Regions from separate parts of the Homo sapiens genome. Here region 2 is reported to be linked to region 1. The links are microRNA targets in miRTarBase. Many come from high-throughput screens and were not tested one by one. Region 1 holds a microRNA gene; the other region holds the end of a gene's coding sequence.

Evidence for each region. The annotated mature microRNA hsa-miR-4454 reads GGAUCCGAGUCACGGCACCA and lies in region 1 at 2,213-2,232, opposite strand. An mRNA with a match to its seed (bases 2 to 7 or 8) in the 3' UTR can be bound and repressed. Matches are read on the target gene's strand: a 7mer-m8 pairs with bases 2 to 8, a 7mer-A1 pairs with bases 2 to 7 and ends in A, and an 8mer does both.
Region 2: the mRNA of ENTPD4 is a reported target of hsa-miR-4454. Seed matches in the 3' UTR shown: 7mer-A1 at 531-537.

Annotation. Positions count from the first base shown.
Region 1 is chr4:163,091,395-163,094,519 of GRCh38, forward strand. It overlaps MIR4454 (microRNA 4454), which reads right to left and starts at 2,234; the gene lies at 2,180-2,234.
Region 2 is chr8:23,430,197-23,433,271 of GRCh38, reverse strand. It overlaps ENTPD4 (ectonucleoside triphosphate diphosphohydrolase 4), which reads left to right. Exons shown (of 13, transcript NM_004901.5): 13 at 118-3,075. The coding sequence ends at 346. Among named protein-coding and RNA genes, the nearest start is that of ENTPD4, 26 kb to the left of the region's middle.

The DNA of each region.
Region 1 (3,125 bases):
CTAATTTCCACAAATTTCCTAAATTAGCTCTCTAAAAGGAAACATAGCAAAAAATGGAAAATAGAGCATCACTTTAGTAACTGTGGAGTCAGTGACCAATGACCACAAAAGCATATTTCTGGCACAGGCTTTGTGGCTTTGGCTAAAAATACCCGTATCACCCCAGGCCCCATTCAAAGCTATATCTTGGGAGTATCTGAGTATCACATAGATCTATTAGGTTAAAAAAAATGGAGGAGACAGCAAGTTGACTGAGTTTGTTGGTAAATTCTCTAGAATCCAGCCACAAAACATATAAAAAAGAAAGACGAGAATATTTCAAGATTAACATGGCATTTTTATCATAAAGCAATGCCACGCCTGGTGAAAGAAGTAAAGTAAGCCTCAGTGTCTTGGAGGCTGATAGATATACCAGGGCGGCAGCTCCTCTTTCTTAGCTGAGTGCTAGGAGGTGAGTGGGAAGGACGGAGCAGAAATGTCTTCCTCCTACACCACTTAACCATGACCTAAGAGAACAGCCACACTAGCTTAGACTAGAATACAGGTCCCTGAAATGGTCTCCTTTCTTTTTTCTCTCTCGCTTTTTTTTTTTTTGGAGACAGAGTCTCAGTCACCCAGGCTGTAATACAGTGATGCCATCACAGCTCACTGCAGCCTTGACCTTCTGGACTCAAGCCATCCTCCCACCTCAGCCTCCTGAATAGCTGGGACTACAGGCACATACTATGCCTTGCTAAATTTTTATTTTTGTAGAGACAAGGTCTCGCTATGTTGCCTAGGCTGGTCTCAAACTCCTGGACACAAGCAATCCTCCCACCTCAACCTCCCAAAGTGCTGGGATTACAGGTGTGAACCACTGCACCCAGTCTCTTTCTTGACAGATCAAAGTGGGTGTCATTACAAAGGCAAAACTACAGAAACTTCTCTTCTCATTGATGCATTACTTTCATTTTTATTTACTACAGTTTATCTTTGTTTTAACAGGGTGAAAGGAAAACAAACGGTAAAATATTTGGCTGAAACTGAAGTTCATTGTGAATTTAAGGATGAACTTCACACTTAAAGTATAAGGCCCATGTATAAAAATGTATAAATATGCTACCAGTTTCCATTTTTAAAGATTAATTGAAAAAGATTTACTAAAGATGTAACGATTGTGAGTTTTCCTAGAATCAAGCTGAATATAACCAAAATAATGCTGTGATTTCATAGTCATGCTTTTACACTACTCTCTGTTTTAGTAGATACTGTAGCCTATTCTGAGTGCTATTTTTTTCTTTTTGTCAGCCTGGAAGATTCCTACTTAGTCTTTAAGCTACAGCATAAGTGTCACTTCCTCTGTGTTGCCCTTTCCCTGTTCTCTCCTTTAGTATCTACTGTGCCCCATAATTATTTATACGAAGGAACCTATATCATTGAATGGAAATCATTCATTTTTTTCTCTGTCATCCCTGATAAACTATCAGATCCTTAAGAGTATAGTTCTGAGTTTAGTCATTCGTATGTCTCCAAAACTTAAAACAATGTCCTGATCATGGGTGCTCAATAAATACTTATAGAGTAAATAAAGAAAAATATAAGTCTTTTTCTTATGCTTCTGATTCATCAACTTGAACCAGAAATGATAAGGCAGTTAAAGGGAGCTTATCGTAAGGGATATCATCTCTTTAAAGGGCCAGGTTGGGGGGAAATTCCAATAACCAGAACGTCTCATAGATAGAGAGCTCATGAAATTTGAAAATTGATGCCAGTATCAAAATGTCAGGAATACTGATTGTCAGGCCTCTGAGCCCAAGCCAAGCCATCGCATCCCCTGTGACTTGCACATATACATCCAGATGGCCTGAAGTAACTGAAGATCCACAAAAGAAGTAAAAATAGCCTTAACTGATGACATTCCACCATTGTGATTTGTTCCTGCCCCACTCTAACTAATCAATGTACTTTGTAATCTCCCCCACCGTTAAGAAGGTTCTTTGTAATTCTCCCCACCCTTGAGAATGTACTTTGTGAGATCCACCCCTGCCCGCAAAACATTGCTCTTAACTTCATCGCCTATCCATCCCAAAACCTATAAGAACTAATAATAATCCACCACTCTTTGCTGACTCTCTTTTCGGACTCAGCCCACCTGCACCCAGGTGAAATAAACAGCTTTATTGTTCACACAAAGCCTGTTTGGTGGTCTCTTCACACGGACACGCATGAAATTTGGTGCCGTGACTCGGATCCGGGGACCTCCCTTGGGAGATCAATCCCCCGTCCTCCTGCTCTTTGCTCCATGAGAAAGATCCACCTACGACCTCAGGTCCTCAGACCGACCAGCCCAAGAAACATCTCACCAATTTCAAATCTGGTAAGCGGCCTCCTTTTACTCTCTTCTCCAACTTCCCTCACTATCCCTCAACCTCTTTCTCCTTTCAATCTTGGCGCTACACTTCAATCTCTCCCTTCTCTTAATTTCAATTCCTTTCATTTTTTGGTAGAGACAAAAGAGACACATTTTATCCGTGGACCCAAAACTCTGGCGTGGGTGATGGAATGGGAAGGCAGCCTTCCCTTGGTGTTTAATCATTGCAGGGATGCCTCTCTGATTATACACCCACGTTTCAAGGGTGTCAGACCACGCAGGGAGGCCTGCCTTGGTCCTTCACCCTTAGCGGCAAGTCCCGCTTTCCTGGGGCAGGGGCAAGTACCTCAACCCCTTCTCTCCTTGTCTCTACCCCTTCTCTGCTTTCCTGGGGCAGGGTCAAGTACCCCAACCCCTTCTCTCCTTGTCTCTACCCCTTCTCCTTCACCCTTAGCAGCAAGTCCCGCTTTCCTGGGGCAGGGGCAAGTACCCCTCAACCCCTTCTCCTTCACCCTTAGTGGCAAGTCCCGCTTTTCTAGGGGGCAAGAACCCCCAAACCCCTTCCCTCTGTGTCTCTACGCTCTCTTTTCTCTGGGTTTGCTTCCTTCACTATGGGCAACCTTCCACCCTCCATTCCTCCTTGTTCTCCCTTAGCCTGTGTGCTCAAGAATTTAAAACCTCTTCAACTTACACCTGACCTAAAACCTAAACGCCTTATTTTCTTCTGCAACACTGCTTGGCCCCAATACAAACTCGACAGTAGTTCCAAATAGCT
Region 2 (3,075 bases), not on the chromosome of region 1:
GGGTTGCAGTTCCTAAAGTGCAGCTCTGGGGCCTGGGTCCCGCCGTCCCCCTGTGCACCCTTTCCACCCCTTTCCTTGCTTACTGTCCTGTTTGTTGTTTGGTGTTCACATGGGCAGAGACATCCAGCAGGAGGCCTTCCGAGCCAGTCACACCCACTGGCGGGGCGTTTCCTTTGTCTACAACCACTACCTGTTCTCTGGCTGCTTCCTGGTGGTGCTGCTGGCCATCCTGCTGTACCTGCTGCGGCTGCGGCGCATCCACAGGCGCACTCCCCGGAGCAGCTCGGCCGCCGCCCTCTGGATGGAGGAGGGCCTTCCCGCCCAGAATGCCCCGGGGACCTTGTGATCCAGCTCACAGCTCCACGAAGACTCAAAAGGAAAAGCCATTTTTGCCTCAGGGTTTCTCCTCTTTATTTTCCTGTGGTTTTGTTTTTTCTTTCCCTTTTTTGTTCCTCCAAACAAAAACAAAATGCAGGCCGAGCGCGGTGGCTCACGCCTGTAATCCCAGCACTTTGGGAGGCCGAGGCGGGCGGATCATGAGGTCAGGAGATCGAGACCATCCTGGCTAACACGGTGAAACCCCGTCTCTACTAAAAATACAAAAAATTAGCTGGGTGTGGTGGCGGGCGCCCGTAGTCCCAGCTACTCAGGAGGCTGAGGCAGGAGAATGGCATGAACCTGGGAGGCAGAGCTTGCAGTGAGCCGAGATCACACCACTGCACTCCAGCCTGGGCGACAGAGTGAGACTCCGTCTCAAAAAAAAAAAATGCATTGTTTATAAGCCCTGCTGTCTAGAAGTATTGCGTTTAGCCATTTTGAGTACAGCATTAAATTGAGGAGTGGGGAAGAGGGAAATTCACTTGATTTTTGCTGCACAGGATATCTGCCAAAAATAAATGAGATTTCTGGGGTTTCTCTAAGGAATGTTAAATTTAAACACATGCACTTTGATACTGGAGGGAGGTGGAAAGATGCATTCTGTCAGTGGAGAGGGGACTGAATAGTGATGCTTTCATAGAACCAAAAAACTTACTGCCTGAAATGATAATCCTCTTTTTTCTCTATCTTGAAAGCTCTAACCTGAAGAGGGTGATTTTTTTTTTTATTTATTGTTCAGGTCTGTTACTGTATATGTTTTCTTTGCAAATTTAAATTTTTTAAACCATTTATATCCAAAACAGAGAAACATGGGCACCAGGAGATAACCATTTATAAAAGTGATAGTGAACTATCGACTACAGCTTTGTGCGAGTGTGTGAAAAATCCCAAGAAACCAGCGTGAGGGGAGGCAATGCTGGTTCTTTAAAAACACACACTTCAGAATTTACTGGTACATTTTATTTAGAAAAATCCTCGTTACTGTTATCTTTTCCTGACCGCAGGTAATTACGCTCCTTATTCCATATTTCAGTGGCATTAGAACACTGTGGTTTTGAAAGAATTGGAAATTCCTAGTTTCACCAGTTTCGGTTTTATTGGAACTAGAGCACATGCCCACTTCTTGCTCAGTATTCCTCAGTGTTTCTGCTTAATCGTGCCTCAGTTTCTTCCAGCTTCCAATTGGTGTTTCCCCCACCCCCCTTAATTAAAAGTCATCTCAGCTTTTAATCGTACTGGGAGACCCCATGCACAGCCTGCCGAGTCCTCTTCCTAACCGCATTGACTGAGGCTGTTGCTGGCAGCACCACTGTAAATCCAGAAGGGAAGAGTCTGCATCCAATACAGGAAATAAATTCACATTTTGAAGGAAAAAATTCGACAATTTAAGCCAAAATCTAAAAAGGACAATTGGATTGGCATATGTGAGATTGGTGTTTTTTCACCTATTTATTTAGTTGAGAAGTTTGGGGAATTCTCGTACAGTTTTTTTAGGTGGAGTTTGTTTTGTGCGAGTGTCTGTGTGTGCTGTTCCCTAACTCCAGAACAGTTAAATTCCTGTAGTTGGTAGCAGATTAGTACCCAGAAGTGGGGTTGTTGCTATAACAGATAACTGAGGATATTATAAAAGTGGCTTTGGAACTAGGTACTGGGCAGAGGCTGGGAGAGTTTGGAGAAACAGGAGAGAAAAGGCCTGTATTGCCATGAACTGAGCATTAGGGGCAGTTCTGCTGAGGGATCAGAAGAGAAGACCAAGGGAATTCTGTCCCAGTTGTGGCTCAAACTGCCTCAGGTGCAGCTTAACCTGCGTCTCTGGAAGGTAAAATGCATCTGATCCTTGAGGCAAGAGCTGTGGGGGCATGGCTCCCTCACCTGGATTTCAAAGCGTGTTACCAGCAGCCTGGGGACCCAGGCTCTGCCTCTGGATTTACCTGCATCGTATTTGCGCTTCGTGGTCAAAGTTGTTAAGAAAGGGGTGAGCTTCTGGCTACCTAATAAGTTGGTCTTGGCCACCTGCCTGCGACACTTCCTGGAGGAGCCATGGATTATTGGTGGAGGCTGCAGGGAGCTGGCGATGGAGCCACTGGTGTCAGCAGCAGAGAGGGAAGAAAGGAAAGGAAGGGGCCACAAATGGTTGAAGTGGGCAGGTGGGCACCCAGGGAGTTAGGGGACCCCGCCTTCCAGCTCTGGGCATAGAAGAGTTAGTCACATACCTGAGGATCCTGAAACAAGGGCTGAGAAAACCTCATTGCTCCAGCTGAGAGGTAGTAGTGGATTTGCCATTTTTAAACAGTTGCCTAAGAAAAAACGTTGAAGAATATGCAGCAGACACTATATGTGGCCTGTAAAGCCTAGAATATTTACTAAAATATTTACAGAAAAAGTTTGCTGGTCCTTGTGAGAACAATGCAGTTCAAAAAAGGATACAGACAGAAGCATCCTCTTAAATCAGGAATGTAGTTTCCATTTGTGGGCACGAAAAGATGGACAAGAGAAGTAACCAAACTTCAATCTTAAAATATTTGTTGCACCAGAATTTCACTTCGGATTTTTCCGTCTAGATTATTTTCAAGATGAGTTTTGAAACAAACCAAGAAACCTGCCCCTCACCCAAAATTGTTTAAAAAGAGACCACTCAAGGGAGTTCATTATGCCGTATGGAGATGTCTGCAGTCGCAGCAAATCACATTCCAGAGA